Linked DNA regions of Homo sapiens: regions 2, 3 and 4 are each linked to region 1. The links come from fine-mapping of genetic effects on gene expression. A gene starts in region 1. Each other region holds a variant in brackets. All regions are shown on one strand. Distances are from middle to middle.

Region 1 (6,070 bases):
AAGCGGAGTTCCCAGCTCTGGGTCAAAGCTGGGAGGCCAGTGAGAGCCATCCTGGGGGAAATGAGGCCAGAGAGGTGGCCGGGGTTCCCCCAAGATCCCCCTGAGCTCTCTTCTGCGCAAACCCTCGGGAAACTCTAGCATCCCAGAGTTTGTCGCTGGGAATACACAACCGGGTCACCTGCAAGGGGCGGGGCCAGCGCCTCTTTCAAGGGTTCCCTCCCAGCCCCTCCCTCCCCAGGGGGGCCGCTCTCCTCCCCTAGTGGGGTGGATGGAAGGACGCCAGGGGGTCCAAGGCATAGCAATGGGAGGGACGGGGGATAAGGGCGGCGGCTCCACTCGTCCACCTCCTGCTATGGCTCTGAGGACAAAGGCGCTACCAGAGGATAGATAAGGTCCCGAAACCGGGGAGTCCGGAACCCGGAGCCAGGAGCGCCCGCCCCGCCCCTCCCTGGCTCGGCGAGAGTGAAACCAGGAAAACTTCCCCGGCGACGTCTCCGTCGCCCCCGACCATTCATAGGGAAAGGGAGGAGTCTCCCAGCCTCTGGGACTCGGGGCCTCCCGTTCTATCTGGGACTCAGGCGACTGAGACTCCAGCCTCAAGACAGAGCCTTCGACCCTTGATCATATCTGGAGCCCAAGAGACGGGGCCCGCTGCTCGCACTTCTGTTTGGATCTCAGAAGACGTTCCTCTGCCTACAATTAAGTCTGAAGCCCACGAGATCGAGTCTCCTGTCCCCCGGTTCTGCCGGGAACCCTGAAAACGAAGCCCCCTGCCCACAATTAAATCCAGAAGCTACAAGTTTGATCCTCTCTCGCCCCCAGTTTTACCTAGATCCCAGTTAGACTTAGCGCCTAGCCTCCATTCTACCAGGGACCCTGAAGACGGAGCCCCCGGCCCCTAATTTTTCTGGAGTCCACGGAGTCAGAACCCCCAACTCCCTGAGGTTCGGGGTTGGAGCTCCGAGCTCAGGCCCTTCCCCCTAAGTCGCCAGAACTCTTATCCTTAGCCCTCCAAGGGACCCGAATCAGGTCCGCTTGTCCTCAGTTCTCTCCGGGCCTCAGACGCCCAAGCCGGGAAGAAGGAAAAATAGGGGAGGGAGGTGGTCTCGCCTCTTCCTCGAGACCTTACTGCGGTAGGTGGGGGGAACATTCCCCACATTCCTGAGAGGGGTAGAGGAGACAGAGACCCAGATCCGGGTGAACTACTCGGCGCGGGGTGGGGAGGGGGCACCAGGCCTTCCTGGGATTTAACCCTTTCGGCGCGGGAATCCGAGAAATGGGGAGGGGGACAGACAAGCAGGCGTAGGATGGGCAATTGGATTAAGAAGGATGGGGGTGGTGGTGAGAGAGATGCAGAAAGGAGGGGTCAGAGTCTCCTCGAGAGAATCGGACGTGTAGGGGGTCGGAGTCTGTGGGGCCAGCCAGGAAGGGGGCACGCGAGAGGGGGCTCGGGGAGCCGGGGGTGGGCGGGGAAGGTGCTCGGCTTCCCCAGCTCGGAAGGTAAGGTTGGAGGGGGTCCGCGCGAGGGCAGGGGGCCGTCCGCTCGTCTCACCGGTTTCCAGGAGCAGCAGCAGCAGCAGCGGCCACAGCAGCGGCGTCGGCGGCGATCTCGACGGCAGGAGGGCAGCGGCCCGGGCCATGGAGGGCCCGGGAGGGGACTGGGCCCGGCCGGAGGCCCGCGGGCCACTCTGTGGGGGCCGATCGGCTGGGCGGTTTAGTAGGTGCCTGTGGGGCTCCGGCTCCGGCTCCGGGCCGGTTCCCGCTGCGCTCTAGCCTCCCTGTTCTGCTCTCCCGGCCCAGCTCTCCCCGCCCGGCTCGGCACCCCCGGCCTCTCGCTCAGCTCCGGCGGTTCGAACCCGCTGACGTCACAGGATCCACCCGCTGCTCCCCCGAGTCAAGCCGACCCTGGCTCCGGCCCCGCCCCCTCCTGGCGTTCTGACCCCGCCCCCCGGATTCCACCCCTGTTCCTCCCCGGGATTCCATTCTCGCTCCTCCCCAGGATTCTAAGGTCGCCCCTGCCAAAGAATTCTGTCTCCTTCGCTCCCGGCGTTAAACCACGCCCCCTAAGGTCTAGCCACGCCCCCTCTGCTCCCGAGTAGTTCCCACGCCCCGCCCCCTGCCTACCGGCCGCCTCGCCAAGGTCTTGCCACGCCCCTTTCGGCCCTTCCGGCCGACTCCGCCCCCACCAGCCCCGCCTCCACCAGCCCCGCCCCTCGCCCTAGCCGGAGTTCTCTCGGTCTCTTAGCTCAGTCCGTCCTGGCCTCTGTCCCACCCACAGTTCGAATCCTGCCCTTTCCTGCCTGCCCGGGTCCTCTCATCACAGTTGCCTGAGGCACGTGGGGCTTTACGGTTCTGCCCCCAGCACGTCCCGGTTGTGCGACCTCCCCGCAGGTCGAGCCCATCGCCCTGAGCCTGTTTCTCGTACCCTCGTGCGTTTCTAATCTCTGCCCCGAACTCTAGGTGTCGCTGCACTCGTTTCTTTCTGGATTTCTCTGTCTCTCTTACGTGTCTTTGTGTCTCTCTCACTCTCTTTGGGTCTTCCTCTCTGTCCCTGTATTTCTGCCTCTCTGGGTCTTTCCGTCCTCATGCTTCGGTGTCGCTCTGTTTCTGGTCTTCCTTTGTCAGTCACTGTTTCTTTATTTCAATAAAAGAGACGGGGCGGGGGGGCGGCGGGGTCTCACTATGTTGCTGAGGCTGGCCTCAAGCGATCCTCCCGGCTCGGCCTCCCAAGATGCTGGGATTACAGGCGTGAGCCACCAAGCCCGGCCTGTCTGTCACTGTTTCTGGGTCACTTGGTCCCCATGTCTCTTTCCATCCTTTGACTCTGTCTCTGTGTCTCTCTGTCTCTATCTGTGTGCCTCTCTGTCTCTGTCTCTATTTCTGTGTATCTCTGTCTCTATCGGCCTGTCTCTGTGCCTCTCTGTCTCTGTGTGCCTCTCTGTCTCTGTGTTTCTCTGTCTCTATCTCTGTGCCTCTCTATCTCTGTGCTTCTCTGTCTCTGTCTCTCCGTGTGTCTCTCTCTGTCTCTATCTGTGTCTCTCTGTCCCTGTCTCTTTCTCTGTGTCTCCCTCTCGGCGTCTCTTGTCTCTGCGTGCGAGTCTCTCTCGCTGTCTCTCTGTCCCTGCTCTGTTCTCTGCTTCCTTCCCTCCCTACCTCCCTGCGCGCCCTGGTCCTCCCCTCCCAACACCTGCTCCGCGCCGCCTTCTCACCGCAGCCACCCGCCAGGGGGCAGCAGAGACCGGCCCCCGCGCTGCGCTGGCCCGGCCGGGCTGGGTGGGGCTGGGCTCCAGTCCGGCCTCCGGACCTGGTCACTCCCCGCGTCCTTGTCCCACTTCCCCTATCTCCCCAGCCTCCTCGCGTCTTTGTGTCTCTCGCTCAGACTCGGGCCCTTTGTCTCTCCCAGCGGCTCGCCCTCCTCCCTACCCCCACCTACCTCTTCGCATTCTTTGGGCTGCCCAGGGGGAGCTGGTGAGGCCGCGCCGGGGGGCGGGATGAGGGCGCGAAGCGGGAGGCCGGGGGAGGGGGTGCCACGGAGCGCCAGTCTGGGCCCAAGTTCGTCCAGGGCCAGGAGGCGCGGAGCTGCTCAGCTGGGGGCAGGTGCTTGGGGGCTTCTTGCCCTAGCAAGAGGACCACCTAGGCTCGCCCTCCCTTCCACCTGCCACACACCTGGGCTTTCCTCCCCAGAAGGACTAGGTTTCAAGTAGCAGAGGCTGTTATCCCTCCGCATTCGAGTCTTAGTTATGATCCTTTTTTTTTTTTTTTCTTTGAGACGGAGTCTCGCTCTGTCGCCCAGGCTGGAGGGCAGTGGCGCGATCTCGGCTCACTGCAACCTCTGCCTCCTGGGTTCAAGCGATTCTCCTGAGTCAGCCTCCTGAGTAGCTGGGATTACAGGCGCGCGCCACCACGCCCGGCTAATTTTTGTATTTTTAGTAGAGACGGGGTTTCACCATGTTGGTCAGGCTGGTCTCAAACTCCTGACCTCCTGATCCACCCGCTTCAGCCTCCCAAAATGCTGGGATTGCAGGTGTGAGCCACCGCGCCCGGCACTTACGATACTGTTAATACATGTAGTCAGCACTTACCGTGTGCCAGGCACTGATCTAAGTGCACTGCGAATATTATCTCATGTAAGCCATGCAGCGCCATGGGCGATAGGGAAACTGAAGCAGAGAGATGAAGTGACTCACTGAGTTACAAAATGGCAGAGCCAGGGCGGGGCGCCCTGGCTGACGCCTGTAATCCCAGCACTTTGGGAGGCTGAGGCGGGTGGATCACTTGAGTTCAGGAGTTCGAGACCAGCCTGGCCGACATGGTGAAACCCTGTCTCTACTTGGGAGGCTGAGGCAGGAGAATCGCTTGAACCCGGGAGTTGGAGGTTGCAGTGAGCCGAGATCGCACCACTGCACTCCAGCCTGGGCAACAGAGTGAGACTCAGTCTGAAAAACATAAAATAAAATAGAAATTAAAAATAAATAAAAATAAACAAAATGGCAGAGCCAGAGCTGACTCTTCTAAGCACCTTATTTCTCTTAGTTAGTTCCTCACAGGGATCCCATGAAGGGGACACCATGGTGATCCCCATTTCACTGAAAAGTAAACTGAGGCACAGGGTGGTTGTTTGCCCCAAGCCACCCAGCAAAGACACATAGCAGGCCGGGTGCTTCTTTTGGGCCCGGATGGTCTGTGCTCTTTTTGTTTTTGAGACGGAGTCTGGCTCTGTTGCCAAGGCTGGAGTGCAGTGGCGCAATCAATCTCGGCTCGCTGCAACCTCCGCCCCCCAGGTTTGAGTGATTCTCCTGCCTCAGCCTCCTGAGTAGCTGGGATTACAGGCACGCACCACCACGCCCGGCTAATTTTTGTATTTTTAGTAGTGACGGGCTTTCACCATGTTGGTCAGGCTGGTCTCGAACTCCTGACCTTGTGATCTGCCTGCATTAGCCTCCCAAAGTGCTGGGATTACAGGGGTGAGCTACTGCACCCGGCCAGTCTGTGCTTTTAACCTCCATGCCATGTGAGCTCCAGATAGCTTGTGTCTCAGGCTTGGCACAAACTGGGTGTGAGGATGGCTGGACAAATAGGCGCACACATAATAAATGCATAGCAGCTACAGCTACTCGGGAGGCCGAGGTGGGAGGATCACCTGAGCCCAGGGAGGTTGAGGCTGCAGTGAGCTGTGATTGAGCCACTGCACTCCAGCCTGGGAGACAGAGAGATTTTGTCTCTAAAATAAATAAATACACAAATAGGCCTTGCGCAGTGGCTCATGTCTGCAATCCCAGCACTTTGGGAGGCCAAGGCTGGCAGATCACTTGAATTTAGGGGTTCAAGACACGCCTGGCAACATGGTAGAGCCCCGTCTCTTAAAATATATATAATAATAAAATAAAACAGTAAAATAAATAAATGTGCTTAATTTATTTATGTATTTAATTTTGAGGCAGGGTTGTGCTTTGTCGCCCAGGTTGGAGTGCAGATCTTGGCTCCCTCTAACCTCAAACTTCCCAGCCCAAGGGATCCTCTGCCTCAGCCTCCTGAGTAGCTGGGACTACAGGCATGTGCCACTATGCTCGGTGCATTTTTTTTTTTTGAGACAGTCTCTGCTCTGTCGCCCAGGCTGGAGTGCAGTGGCGCGATCTTGGCTCAGTGCAAGCTCCGCCTCCCAGGTTCATGCCATTCTCCTGCCTCAGCCTCTCGAGTAGCTGGGACTACAGGTGCCTGCCACCACGCCCAGCTGATTTTTTGTATTTTTAGTAGAGACGAGGTTTCATGGTCTTAGCCAGGATGGTCTCGATCTCCTGACCTCGTGCTCCACCTGCCTCGGCCTCCCAAAGTGCTGGGATTACAGGCGTGAGCCACTGTGCCCGGCTGCTCGGTGCATTTTTAAATGTTTTGTAGAATTTGATTCTCGCTTTGTTGCCCAGGCTGGTCTTGAACTCCTGCCCTCAAGTGATCCTCTCACCTCAGCCTCCCAAAGTGCTGGGATTACAGGTGTGAGCCATCGCGCCTGGCAATAAATGTGCTTTAGATCTCTCTGACCTTCTCTCCCCAATCTGAGGCCAGGTTTGTGGAC
Region 2 (4,000 bases), 24 kb before region 1:
AAAAAGCTGGTCGGGCGTGGTGGTTCACACCTGCAATACCAGCACTTTAGGAGGCTGAGGAGGGTGGATCACTTGAGGCCAGGAATTTGAGACCAGTCTGGCCAACATGGTGAAAACTCATCTCTACTGAAAATACAAAAATTAGGATGGGCGCAGTGGCTCATGCCTGTAATCCCAGCACTTTGGGAGGCCCAGGTGGGCAGATCACCTGAGGTCAGGAGTTCTAGACTAGCGTGGCCAACGTGGTGAAACCCCATCTCTACTAAAAATGCAAAAATTAGCTGGGCGTGGTGGCAGGTGCCTGTAATCCCAGGTACTCGGGAGGCTGAGGTAAGAGAATTGCTTGAACCTGGGAGGCAGAGGTTGTAGTGAGCCGAGATCGTGCCACTGCACTCCAGCCTGGGTGACAGTGAGACTCTGTCTCCAAAAGAAAAAAAAAAAAAAGGAAAAAAAAAAAGCAAATCAAGGCCGAGCGAGTAACTGAGTACTGTGGTTCAAAGGTCCAGCTGGAAAGGCCCCCTGTTCCTTTTCCTGTAATCACCATTAGATGATTGAATGACTGGAAGTGTGATAAAGGCAGAAAATCTCAAAGCCGTTTCTTTTTTTTATACCCTTTCCACCTCATTCTCTTGGAAAACATGGAAAAAAATCACAAAAACAAAACTCCAGGAAGAATAGCAGCTCATGCTTATGATGTGTGTCCCCCACCCAGACTCACATCTTCTGTTGCTTTCTGGACCTGGGTATCCACCTCTGAACTTCTCAACACGGTCTGACTCTCCTCTTCTTCCCAGCTCTCCCTTCCCACCGCCTTCTCCCCTGACCATCGTGGAGCATCCAACAAGCCTCCCCACATCCTCCTGGCCGCCCTCCAAGCTGTTAGAATAGTGACTCAGGGCCCGAGCCCACCACTTCCCCATGGCCACCTCCCCTGGCCACTCCACATGCTCCCCATCCACGCCCTCCTCAGTCTCTGCCTCCACCCACTTTGGGGTTTTGGTTGGTGATTTTGTGCCTGGATTGCTTTGGCCTCCTTCTCCAGACCCCACTCCAAGCCCCACTTCGTCAAGGGCACTTTCCTGACCGCCGACTCTGGCCAACTATTCCTTGGTGGCTCACGCATCATGAAGACAGAGGCTTTGGCTGTTTTGTTCCTTACTTCTGCACCAGTGTGTATACGGAAGCTCTTGAGGTTATCTCTCTCTCTCTCTTTTTTTTTTATTAATTTGAGACAGAGTCTTGCTGTCACCCAGGATGCAGTGCAGTGGTGCAATCTCAGCTTACTGCAACCTGCCCTTGCTGGTTTCAGCAATTCGCCTGCCTTAGCCTCCTGAGTAGCTGGGATTACAGGTGTGCGCCACCATTCCTAGCTAATTTTTATTTGTAGTTTTGGAGACCCTCTCTCCAAGAAACAAACAAACAAACAAAAGCTCACTTGCAAGAGCTGCTTGCCTTGGCCCCTGCTTGAAGTGTATATTCAGGGCAACTTCAATCTATGCTCCCAGGTGGTCATCCTCAAGCTTTGGGCTTGATTAAACCCTACACTTAATCATATTTTCTTTTCTTTTTTTTTTTTTTTTTGAGATGGAGTCTCGCTCTGTCGCCCAGGCTGGAGTGCAGTGATGCGATCTCGGCTCACTGCAAGCTCCGCCTCCTGGGTTCATGCCATTCTCCTGCCTCAGCCTCCCAAGTAGCTGGGACTACAGGCACCCGCCACCACGCCCGGCTAATTTTTTTGTATTTTTAGTAGAGACAGGGTTTCACCGTGTTAGCCAGGATGGTCTCAATCTCCTGACCTCGTGATCCGCCTGCCTCGGCCTCCCAAAGTGCTGGGATTACAGGCGTGAGCCACTGCGCCTGGCCCTTAATCATATTTTCTGAGTCTCATTATTTATTTATTTATTTTGAGACAGAGTTTTGCTCTTGTTGCCTCTCAGCCTCCCAAAGTGCTGGGATTACAGGTGTGAGCCACCGTGCCCAGCCCTGAAGTTATCTCTGGATGAGAACAAATGATTGCACAAGAAGAGAGGCGTTTGTGAGGGTGGGGAGGAGAAGAGCTGTCCTTTGTATTATGGAAAACGGCTGTGGTTTCATGTGTTAC[T/C]GGAAAGGGAAGTGTTTACTCAAGGATAGCACAGGGTGACCTTCTCAGACGCTCTGGGCTGAGAAGGGGGAAGAAAAGGCATCCAGAGTGACGTGGCTTCTGGGAAGTTGCCTAGGGAAGGTGGGCTCCCAGGGGACTTCCAACATATTTTTTTTTTTTTCCAGACAGAGTCTCACTCTGTCGCCCAGGCTGGAGTATAGTGGCGCGATCTCGGCTCACTGCAAGCTCCGCCTCCCGGGTTCAAGCCATTCTCCTGCCTCAATCTCCCGAGTAGCTGGGACTAAGGCACCCGCCACCACGCCTGGCTAATTTCTTGTATTTTTAGTAGAGATGGGGTTTCACCGTGTTAGCCAGGATGGTCTCGATTTCCTGACCTCGTGATCCGCCCGCCTCGGCCTCCCAAAGTGCTGGGATTACAGGAGTGAGCCACCACGCCCAGCCTCAAGATTTAAAGAAAGAGCATTCGTAGCTGGATGTGGTGACTCATGCCTGTAATCCCAGCTATGCAGGAGGCGGAGGTAGGAGGATCCCCTGAGCCCAGGAGTTCGAGTCTAGCCTGGACAATGTAGTGAGACTTTGTCTCAAAAAAAGAAAAAAAAAAAAAAAGAAAAAGGAAAAGAAAAAAAAGCATCCTTCAAAAAAAATCTTCCCTGCCTTCTCTATTTTTGCCAAGTATCAGTCACCTTCCCGCTGGGAGTCCTATTTTTTTTTTTTTTTTTTTGAGACAGGGTCTCGTGCTGGAGTGCAGTGGTGCAATCTTGGCTCACTTGCAATCTCTGCTTCCCAGGCCCAAGCGATCCTCCCACCTCAGCCTCTTGGGTAGCTGGGACTACAGGTGTGTGCTACCATGCCCAGCTAATTTTTTTTTTTCTTGTAGAGATGGGGCCTCACCATGTTGCCCAGAGTGGTCTGAAACTCCTGACCTCAAAGCGATCTGCCCACCTTGGCCTCCTAAAGTGCTGGGATTACAGGCGTGAGCCACCGCACCAGGCCTGGGACTCCTCTCTGATCCTGCTTCCCCCTCAATCCATGGGCAAGCCCAGCACCTACTATCTTCTAAAAACACCACTATATGCCGCCCGCTTCCCTCTGCCCCCCACTGCCTCATCCGTCTTCCCAGCAATGCCTCTTCTCCCCTCTCGTCCCAGCTCCCTTCTACCTCCGTCCACTCCTCCAATCACTCCTCATACTGCTGCCGGTCATTTTTTGCAACCTCAAACGTTTGTCCAGATCTCTCCTGTGGCTTGACACCTCCCATGGCTCTTAACCATGCTGAGGGCATAGTCCAGCCTCCTCGCCTCCACCTGTGAAGCCCGTGTAATGTGGCCCCGCTGAGGGTCACCCAAGCCCTTGCCTATCCTCACCAGCCCCCTTTCCATTCCTGGAACGCGCCCAGCTCCCATCTCATGCCCACCTCCCAGGTTTCTGTGCCCGTGCCCCTCTGCTATGCCCAAAGGTAGCTCCTTCTCAGACTCCAGGACTTGACTAAGACGCCTTCCCTGCACATCCTATCTCAATGAGGCCACTATGTCCCCTACTTCTAAGCCGTTTTACTTCCTGCCCGGACTGGACTTGTTTTAAGACAGGGTCTCGCTCTCTTGTCCAGGATGGAGTGCAGTAGCACAATCACAGCTCACTGCAGCCTCAACCTCCTGGGCTCAGGTGATCCTCCCACCTCAGTCTCTCGAGTAGCTGAAATTACAGGTAAGTCACTGAGCCTGGTTAATTAAAACAATTTTTTTTTCTTTCCTGGCCAGGCTCAGTGGCTCATGCCTATAATCCCAGCACTTTGAGAGGCCCAGGTGGACGGATCACCTGAGGTCGGGAGTTCAAGACCAGCCTGGCCAACATGGTGCAACCCCGTCTCTACTAAAAATACAAAAAAATTTAGCTAGGTGT
Region 3 (4,000 bases), 33 kb before region 1:
AGAATTGCTTGAACTTGGGAGGTGGAGGGTGCAGTGAGCCGAGATCGTACCACTGCACTCCAGCCTGGGTAACAGAGCTAGACACCGTCTCAAAAAAAAAAAAAAAAAAAAAAAAAAAAAAGGCAAGACAGGAAAAGGGGTCGAGAAGCGAGAAGCCTGTTTGCTCCTGGGCCTCTCCTTCCTTGCTAGCACCTCCCGTTTCCATTTCTCAAGTCTTTCCTAATGGAAGAGTTTTTGGAGTGGTTACCCGTTTACTTGCCAATTTCCATACTAGACTGTGTGCCTGAGGTTCGGCACACAGTAGGTGTTTGCTGGGTGTGTAAGGAGGACTCAGCATGGCACTGAAGGATCCACTGTGTGCCAGGCGGACCCAATTCCCCGCCCCTGCCCTCCGGTTGTCCGGGTGGGGTGGGTGGGTGAGTACAGACAACAAACAACCAGAGGAAGTAACAAGTATGGAAGGGCCCGTGGGGGTCACGCATGCATCGGCCTCACTCTCCAGATGAGGAGGAAGCTTCCAGAGGACGCTGGACTGTTGGATCTCCACTGCTCCCGTTCCACAGCCTGGCATCCTCTGGAGGGCTTCAGAGGGTGGGGGAGTGAGAGAGAGAGACTGCCCCTCGGTCCACACACACACCTTCATCCTAAACATACTGCTGCTATTCTTGTGGTCATTATGGCCGTGCACACCGGAGGACGGCACTGGGTCTGTGCAGGCCACAGCTGCAGCCCCAGCACTGCCTGGCACAGGGCTTGGTGGGGTCTGTGGAGGTCAATGAGGCTGCATGAGGGCATCACGGGCATGTCCTTACTGGGTCCCACGACAGCCTTGTGAGGCCGATGGAAACACCTGCCCCGTGTTACAGAGGAGGCATGGAGGCTTGGGAGAGCAGAGGTGACGCGGGTAAAAACCTGTCCCTTACTGAGCCTGGGAGTTCAAGGACCAAGGGCCGCCCCTCCCCCCGTCTTTGCTTTTCCAGTTGAGAGGAGCTGGAGGGAGCTGCCGCCACTCCCAGGGAGCCACTGAAAAGTCCCCTGGGGTGATCCCTGGGGGCAAGGATGGAGAAGGAGGGGAGCCACAGTCGGGGTGGCCAGAGGTGGGACTTCCCCAGCACCCCCCGCCTGCCCCATGCCCTCAGGGCCCCTAAGAATGGGAGTGGGGAGCAGCCCTCCCCTCCCGAGACCCCCAGCAACCTGGGGGAGTTGAGGTCTGAGGCTCCACTGGATCACAGCCCTCTGGCCTCATTCTCTCAGGACGCAGGGAACCTGGCTGAGCCCCTGCTGTCCCCACCCCCACCTCCACCCGAGGGCCCAGGAGTCCAGAGAACTCCTGCCTCTGATGGGTCTGGCCACACCATCCAGAAAGGCAGCCTCTGTCCTGGGACCCAGGAGTCCAAATGTCCAGGCCTCTGAGTCCCCAATCCAGTGACCTGAATCCTAGTTGCACGAGCCTTGCGGTTCTCGGCCATCCAATGCGTCTTTCAAGGATCCAAGTGGTCCGAGCCCCACAGCCTTCCCCAGTCTAACCCCTGCCAGGCTCTCGTTCCCCGGGGGCGTGGATCAGCTCTTCCCAGCCCTGGGACCTAGGAGTCCCTGTCCCACCCTCTCTTTCCCCAACATGCAAGGAGGGGGTCTGATGTATTACAAGACACCCCTGATGTTTTCCTCCAAGGCATTTATTAACTCCTGAGTGTCACGGGGCCAGGGGAAGGCTGGAGCCAAAACCAAGTCTCTGGGGGCGGGGGTCCTCTCTGGATCCCCACTACTCAGCTCCCCGGGCTCCCCATGCAGCCCTAGAGACGGGAGAAGTCCAGTGTGCTGTTCCACCTCCCTCCAAGTCCCAAGAAAGTGGGAGGCAGTGTTCCACTCCAGTGTCGTCCAGACGAACAAGTCCAACCAGTCTGGAACCCTAGGCCGGCGTGGTCAGGTCGGGGGC[G/A]GGAGGGCCGGGCCTGGCTCTGTCTCTGTCTGTGTCCAGGTCACACATAAACTGCCCGCCGTGAGATGAGGGAGCCGTCCAGCTGGGACTCCATGTCATCCTCGAGTGCTGGGGGTGGAGGCAACATGAGGCCTTTCTCTGCCTTCTCTTCCTCCTCCTCCTCCTCCTCATCCTTGCCATCTGGTTCCATGGGACCAGGGACTACTGGTGTCCAGAAGACGGGGTCCCCATTTCCCAACACCTGAGCTTTCGGATCGTAGAATCCCCCGTCGCCACTGGCTCCTCCTCCTGCTCCTCCAGGGCTCTTCCTCCTCCTCCTCACCCTCAGCAGGATGAAGGCCAAGGACCCCCCAGCCAGAAGCAGCAGCACCAGCAGTGTCCCCCCCACGGCCCCCCACACCAGCGGGCCCACATCTCGGGGCGAGGCCCTGGGGGTTTCTGAGGAGAGAGAGAAGGAGGGGTGAGAGAGAGAGAAAGGGAGACACAAGATCACGAGGATCGCTCTGGGGAGTGAGGGGGTGGGGGAGATGCAGGATAGGCGGGGATGGAGGGAGCGGGAGTGACCAGAATGAGGGGGTGACTCTGGGCAGAAGAATGGAGGAGGAGGAGGAGGGGGGTGGGGAAGCAGAAGCCCCTCCGCCCTTCGCTACAGCCTGAGCACCACTTTGTACAAGGAGGGGGATGCCAACCGGTGGTCCCCAGGTGTTAGTGTTTTGCAAAATTTAAATTGCTAGCCAACCTTTCAAAAATCAGGCGATTTCACTTAAAAATCCAGGTTTCTCTTAGGGGGACAAATCAGATCTAGCAACACCAAACTCCCATGTCTGGCGATCGCCGTAGCCGAGTGGAAGCTGGCTATTTGGATGCAATAGATCTGGCCGCCCGGTCACTGGCCAGGACCCTGGTGCCATCTGACTTCGCAGCCCTCCCTGAATGTGCTGTGGGGTCCTCACAAAGCTATGAGCTTGGGGGCCACACCCCCTCGGGGGAGGACAGCTGGGTTTCAGTGGGAGGCTGTCTGATCCCAAAGCTCTCTGCAGAGGGCCACAGATTCCTGATAATTCTGCCCTCTTGAGTGGCTGGGAGCATTTATTCCAAGTGCCGTGGCTGCCTCATCTCTAGGCCACTTATCCCCAGTGTGTAAAATGGGGTTCTCACAGACCGGGACAGTGGGACTTCCTTAGTGCTCCCTGCAGGGGCTGAGCAGGTGGGGATGGGGGATGGGAGGTAGTGGGGAGGCGGAGAGAGAGAGGAAGCCATGAAGTGCTGAGGAGGGCAGTGTGAGCAGGGAGGGATGGGGCTCCTGGGCCCCAAGCCAGGGACAGAAGTCAATGTAACCAGAACCTACCCACATCCACTTCCCCCATCCCTGCATGCAAGGCATAACTGGGACAGACGGGGGTGGGGGGTTCACCCACACCTGACCCCACCTCTACACCTCGACACACAGGAGGGGCTGAGACCCAGGAAGGACATCTGTTTCTGTTGTTTTCAAACAGGGGGTCATGACCCAGCGGGCTGTCAAATCAGCTTAGTGACTCACAAATAGCATTAAAAAAAGGAGGATAAAATCTTTTTTGGTAGGGGGTAGGGTGGTATATATGTCTCTAACTATACACTGGGTTGAGGAGTGAAACAGATTTTTCTCCTGTGCTGGTCACTAACTGGACCAGGTTGAGCCTATCTTGGGAGGCTTGTCTCTGTTTCTGGAGGTGGCATTGGTGTTTTGGAACTCGAAGCTGAGTCTGTTCATATGTCTAGGGTTCAAAGCTCTGAATCAGGCTTAGTGTGCTGGCTCATACCTGTAATCCCAGCACTTTGGGAGGCCAAAGCTGGAGGAATGCTTTGAGGCCAGGAGTTCAAGACCAGCCTGGCCAACATAGCGAGACCCTGTCTCTATTAAAAATAAAAAGTTCTCTGAGTCTCCCTAAAGATAGATCTGTCCTGTGGTGCGGCGTTCGTATCCTATGTTCGTGCTGCTGTGGACTCCATACTGTGTCTCTGTGACGACTCTGTGTGTGCCTGGATGTGGGTTCGTGGCTCAGAGACCCTCTGAGAGTGACC
Region 4 (6,203 bases), 78 kb after region 1:
CGGTTTCCTTCAGTCTGGTACGGTTCCTTGGCCTTTCTTTGTTTTTCATGGAATTGACATTTTTGAAGATTATAGGCTAGTTCTTTTGGAGAAGGTCTCCTTGATTTGGGTTTGTGTGATGTTTCCTTGTGATTAGATTCTGGTGGCAGGAGTGTTACAGAAGTGATGCTGTGTCCTTCTCTGTACATGATATCAGGAGGCACACGATGCTGGTTGTCCCAAGAATGCTGACAGATTTGGTCGGTTGGTTATGGTGAATCATGGAATCCCAGACCTATCGATTCACCAAGTCAGTCTCTTCCATCCCTGGGCCACAGTTTCCCTTTCTATAAAGTAAAAGTCTGGCTTATGTGAAGGTCTGAAAACACACTTAAAGAACAGATGTGTTCGGCTGCGCGGTGGCTCATGCCTATAATCCCAGCACTTTGGGAGGCCGAGGCGGGCGGATCATGAAGTCAGGAGATCGAGACCATCCTGGCTAACACGGTGAAACCCCATCTCTACTAAAAATATAAAAAATTATCCGGGCGTGGTGGCGGGCGCCTGTAGTCCCAGCTACTTGGGAGGCTGAGGCAGGGGAATGGCATGAACCCAGGAGGCGGAGCTTGCAGTGAGCTGAGATCACGCCACTGCACTCCAGCCTGGGCGACAGAGCGAGACTCCGTCTCAAAAAACAAACAAACAATGAAAAAAAGAAAAGATGTGTTCTGTTTACCTCTCACACTCTTTTTTTTTCTTTTTGTTTTTTGAGACAGTCTCCCTCTGTCGCCCAGGCTGGAGTGCAGTGGCTGAATCACAGCTCACTGCAACCTCTGCCTCTGGGTTCAAGCAATCCTTCTACCTCAGCCTCTCAAGTTGGTGGGTGCCACCATACCTGGCTAATTTTTGTAGAGATGGGATTTTGCCATGTTGCCCAGGCTGGTCTTGAACTCCTGGCCAATCCACTCACCTTGGCCTCCCAAAGTGCTGGGATTACAGGTGTAAGCCACCGTCCCCTGACTCTGTGTGTGTGTGTTTGAGGCAAAGTCTCTCGCTGTCACTCAGGCTGGAGTGCAGTGGCATGGTCACAGCTCACTGCAGCCTCAACCTCCTGGGCTTAAGCGATCCTCCCACCTCAGCCTTCTGAGTATCTGGGACTGCAGGCACGTGCCACCATGTTCGGGGTTAGAGCCGGGGTCTACCCATGTTGCCCAGGATGGTCTTGAACTCCAGGGCTCAGTCTGTCCTCCCACCTCAGCCTCCCAAAGGGTTGGGATTACAGGTGTGAGCCACTGTGCCCGGCCAATGCTCTTAAAGTCACTTTTTGGAATGTCCCAGGCATTTAGAATCTGGCAGATTTCACACACGCATCTAGGAGAGATGTCCTCTGTCTTTCTGGGTTTACTCAATGTGGTGAGGACAAGCGAGTGGAGCCCCGAGAAATGCATTGAAGGTATGACTTCTGGCGTTAGAGCTGTCCCCGGAATGCTGGGACTGTCACCCATGAGGAGCTTTGGAAGTTGAGGGGTGAGTGATTGAATTATTATTATTATTTTTCTGTCACCCAGGCTGGAGTGCAGTGGCACGATCTTGGCTCACTGCAACCTCCCCCTCCCAGGTTCAAGCAATCCTCCCACTTCAGTCTCCCTAGTAGCTGGGACTACAGATGTGTGCCACCATATCCAGCACATTTTTGTATTTTTAGAACAGACGGGGTTTCACCATGTTGGCCAGGCTATGAGTGCTTAATTCTGTGAAGGCTGGGAGGCTGGAGACCCCAAGCAGGACCCTTCCTCCATCTTTGGAGTCTGCCTTTCTCCAGCGGAAGGGGGAAGACTGTGGAAGGACATGTGCCTAGTCCCAAGGTCTAGGAGGCTGAGTGGGGATTTCCATGTGTACAGAGGCCAGATCCCTTGTTTTAGAGAAGTTACTTATAAAGTTCAGTGCTGGGTTCAGCTCTCAAGCCCCGGGACGGTTTCTCATACACGAAAAGCCACATCACCCACAGCCTAGACCCACAAGCACAAGAGGACTTCCAACACACTCCAGACTGATGATGGGCCAGGTCCTGGGCTAAGTGCCTGACACTCACACTCTCATTAAATGCCCAACAACCCATCAACCCCAAGGGGTCGGGGGGATTCCCTTCTTACAGGTGAGGAAACTGAGGCTCAGTGTGGTGAAGTCACTTCACCTTGAGTCATTTAGTCATTTGGTGGCAGAGCCCTGGTTGTGACAGATACATGTGCGGCCCCTCAATAACCATTCTCTCCTCTTCCTTTTGTAGCAGAACCCCTGAATTTTGGCTGGGTACATGCTGCCCAGATAAAACCACATTTCCCAGCCTCTGTTGTGATAGGTGTGGTCATGTGACTAAATTCTGGCCAAATAGGATGTGATGTGTATGATGTGTATGACTTCTGGGTTGTAGCTTTAAAGGTAGGGGCATGCGATTGACTTTTGTTTCTTCTTCCCAGTGGTTGGAATGTGGATGTGATGGTGGGAGCTGGAGCAGCCATTTTGGACCACACAATGGAAGTGTGAGGTGAGGGCAGCAGAACAACCAGGTAGAAGGAGCCTCGATCTCTGACATCCTTGGCTACTATTCTAGATGCGGGTGTTCGCTGGGCCTTTACATGAGAGAAAAATAGACTTTCATCTTATTTAAGCTACTATTGGGTGGACGTGGTAGCTCATGCCTGTAATCCCAGCACTTTGGGAGGCCAAGGTGGGTGATCACCTGAGGTCGGGAGTTCAAGACCAGCCTGACCAACATGGCGAAACTCCATCACTACTAAAAATACAAAAATTAGCCGGGCGTGGTGGCAGGCTCCTGTAATCCCAGCTACTCGGGAGGCTGAGGCAGGAGAATCGCTTGAACCTGGGAGGCAGAGGTTGCAGTGAACTGAGATTTTGCCACTGCACTCCAACCTGGGTGACAGAGCAAGACTCTGTCTCAAAAAAAAAAAAGCTACTATATTTCTTCTTTTATTTATTATATTTTTAAAGACAGGGTCTCACTCTGTCACCCAGGCTGGAGCATAGTGGTGCAGTCATAGGTCACTGTAGCCCTGACCTCTCGGTGTCAAGTGGTCCTCCTAC[C/T]TCAGCCTCCTGAGTAGCTGGGACTACAGATGCACGCTACCATGCCTGGTTAATTTTTGCGTTTTTTTTTGTAGAGATAGGGTTTCGCCATGTTACCCAGGCTTTTGCCATGTTACTCAGGCTCTTTGTTTTATATATTTTTTAAAGATAGGGTCTCTCTCTGTTGTCTAGGCTGGAGTGCAGTGGTGCAATCATAGCTCATTGCAGCTTCAAACTCCTCTCGGCCTTTTTTTTTTTTTTTTTTGAGATGGAGTCTCCTCTGTCACCCAGGCTGGAGTGCAGTGGTGCGATCTCAGCTCACCGCAAGCTCCGCCTCCCAGGTTCACCCCATTCTCCCGCCTCAGCCTCCCGAGTAGCTGGGACTACAGGTGCCTGCCACCACGCCTCGCTAATTTTGTTTTTGTATTTTTAGTAGAGACGGGGTTTCACCATGTTAGCCAGGATGATCTGGATCTCCTGACCTTGTGATCCGCCTGTCTCGGCCTCCCAAACTTCTGGGATTACAGGCGTGAGCCACTGCACCCTGCCTCAGCCTTTGAATAGCTAGGACCACAGGCACCTAATATAATTTTTTTTTTTTTATTGTAGAGAGAGGATCTTGCTATGTGGCCCAGGCTGATCTCAAACTCCTGGGCTCAAGCAATTCTCCTGCCTTGGCCTCCAAAAGTGCTGGAATTACAGATGCGAGTCACTTCACTCTTTCAAGAGATGGGGTCTCACTACATTGCCCAGGCTGGTCTCAAACTCCTGGGCTCAAGTGATCCTCATGCCTCAGCCTCCCTCCCGAGTAGCTATGACTACAGGTGTGTGCCACCATGCCCAGCTATATTATTTAATTTAATTACAACCGTGGAATAAAAAAAATGTAGCTAAAACACACATCTAGGCTATGACCTCATTGTTCCATTTTTCTACCAGGACAAAGAATAGGTCTCATCGTCTCTACTGTGTTTCCTCTGACCTCAAAACTGTCAAAAATTCTTAGATGATGGCAACAGCAATTCCCATTTATGAAGCTCTTACTCAGCACCATGGCCTGTAATAAGTATTGCACAAAATTTACTTCCCCCCACCTTTTTCCTTTTTTGAGACAAGGTCTCTCTCTGTCACCCAGGCTGGAATGCAGTGGCGCAATCTTGATTCACTGCGGCCTTGACCTCTTAGGCTCAAGTGATCCTGCCACCTCGGCCTCCCCAGTGGGTGGGACTACAGGCGTGCACCACCATACCGGCTAATTTTTGTTTTTTTTTTGGAGAGACAGGGTTTCACCATATTGCCCAGGCTTGTCTTGAACTCCTGGGCTCAATCGATCTGCCCACCTCCAGCTCCCAAAGTGCTAGGATTACAGGCGTGAGCCACTGTGTCCCGTTCATATTTTTTTTTTTTCGGTTTGGACAGGAAGGAGGATTTATTGGTGGGTGTGAGTAAGCAGGGCTCGCCACTATTCCAGGGGCCTATGATTGGGGATGTATCTGATGCCACAGCCATCCAGGATGAGCTACTTCTCAGCCACCGTGTCTTCACATTCATCTGCACTAAACTTGGTAAAGTCCCACCGCCTTGAGATGTGGGTCTTCTGGTGGCCAGGGAGCTTGAACTTGGCCCTGGGTAGGGCCTCAATCACGTGTTCCATGTTCTGCAGCTTGGTGCGGATGGACGTGATGCCTTAGCCAATGTGAACCCTGGCCACCACACCCTGGGGCTTTCCAAAGGCGCCTCGCATACCTGTCTGGAGTCTAGACTGGGGTGAGGTCAAGATCAGAAACATGAACATGCATCGGAAAGGGCTATCTCCAAGGTCTCTTAAGGCCACCGCTACACGCAGCAGGCTGCGTATACTACTGAGGGCACTGCTGTTTGCCGCCACTGCATAGGAGGAGAGGAGCACAATTAGCTTGACTAGTGTTCATGTTTAAACCTTGGAGCAAACCTGCAAGTTGCTCTAAGGATTAAACATAAATATTGGCTGGGTGCGGTGGCTCATGCCTGTAATCCCAGCACTCTGGGAGGCTGAGCCAGGAGGATCTCCTGGGGTCGGGAGTTTGAGACCAGCCTGACCAACATGGTGAAACCCTGTCTCTACTAAAAATACAAAAAATTAACTGGATGTGGTGGCGGGTGCCTGTAGTCCCAGCTACTCGGGAGGCTGAGGCAGGAGAATGGCGTGAACCCGGGAGGTGGAGCTTGTAGTGAGCTGAGATTGCGCCGCTGCACTCCAGCCTGGGCGACAGAGCGAGACTTCATCTCAAATAAATAAATAAATAAATAAAATTAAAAATTAGCTGGGCATGATGATGCATGCCTGTAATTCCAGCTACTTGGGAGGCTGAGGCAGGAGAATTGCTTGAACCTGGGAGACGGAGATTGCAGTGAGCAGAGATTGCACCACTGCACTCCTCCAGCCTGTGCAGCAGAGTGAGACTTAGTAACAACAAAACAAAACAAAACAAAACAAAACAAAACAAAACAAGAGACAGGATCTCCCTCTGGCACCCAGGCTGGAATGCAGTGGCGTGATCATAGTTCACTGCAGCCTTGACATCCCGGGCTAAAGTGATGCTTGAACCTCAGCCTCCTAAGTAGCTGGGACTGCAGGCACACACCACCAGGCTCATGCTCAGCCAACACATTTTTTGATCTTCTGTAGAGACAGCGTCTCACTATGTTGACCAGGAAACATAGAAATAATCTCTCCCTCCCTCCCTCCCTCGCTTGCTTCCTTCCTTCCTTCCTTCCTTCCTTCCTTCCTTCCTTCCTCTCCCTCTTTCCTCCCTTCCCCTCCCCTTCCCTTCCCTTCAAGACAGGGTGTTGCTATGTTGTCTGGGCTGGTCTTGAACTCCTGGCCTCAAGTGATCCTCCCACCTTGCCTTCCCCAAAGTGCTGGAATTGCAAGTGTGAGCCACTGTGCTCAGTGACAAATGTCCTCATAAGAGACAGAGAAGAAGACATGGACACACAAAGGAGAAGATCATGTGAAGACAGAGGCAGAGACTGGACTGATGCAGCCAGAAGCGGAGGAATGCTTGGGGCTACCAGAAGCTGGAAGAGGCAAGGAAGGAGTCTCCCCTACAGTTTTTGGTGAGTGCGGTCCTGCCGACGCCTTGATTTTGGACTTCCGGACT

The links.
Region 2: its variant is fine-mapped to the expression of NECTIN2 in whole blood (TOPMed, PIP above 0.99). The same link has a PIP of 0.9 or more in blood mononuclear cells and lung.
Region 3: its variant is fine-mapped to the expression of NECTIN2 in lung (TOPMed, PIP above 0.99). The same link has a PIP of 0.9 or more in sun-exposed skin and unexposed skin.
Region 4: its variant is fine-mapped to the expression of NECTIN2 in gastroesophageal junction (GTEx, PIP 0.98).

What each region holds. Positions count from the first base shown.
Region 1 is chr19:44,842,096-44,848,165 of GRCh38, reverse strand. It overlaps NECTIN2 (nectin cell adhesion molecule 2), which reads right to left and starts at 1,869. Exons shown (of 9, transcript NM_001042724.2): 1 at 1,553-1,869. The coding sequence starts at 1,640. RefSeq lists an enhancer at 1-159 and silencers at 1,799-1,898, 2,029-2,108, 2,189-2,238, 3,106-3,505.
Region 2 is chr19:44,867,174-44,871,173 of GRCh38, reverse strand. The region is part of intron 2 of NECTIN2 (nectin cell adhesion molecule 2); the gene reads right to left. Among named protein-coding and RNA genes, the nearest start is that of TOMM40, 22 kb to the left of the region's middle. The variant T/C (reference allele first, on the strand shown) is at 2,102.
Region 3 is chr19:44,876,597-44,880,596 of GRCh38, reverse strand. All of the region lies in intron 5 of NECTIN2 (nectin cell adhesion molecule 2), which reads right to left. Among named protein-coding and RNA genes, the nearest start is that of TOMM40, 13 kb to the left of the region's middle. RefSeq lists enhancers at 1-11, 12-861, 862-1,711. The variant G/A (reference allele first, on the strand shown) is at 1,937.
Region 4 is chr19:44,763,764-44,769,966 of GRCh38, reverse strand. It overlaps the pseudogene LOC124900431. Among named protein-coding and RNA genes, the nearest start is that of MIR8085, 8.2 kb to the right of the region's middle. The variant C/T (reference allele first, on the strand shown) is at 3,082.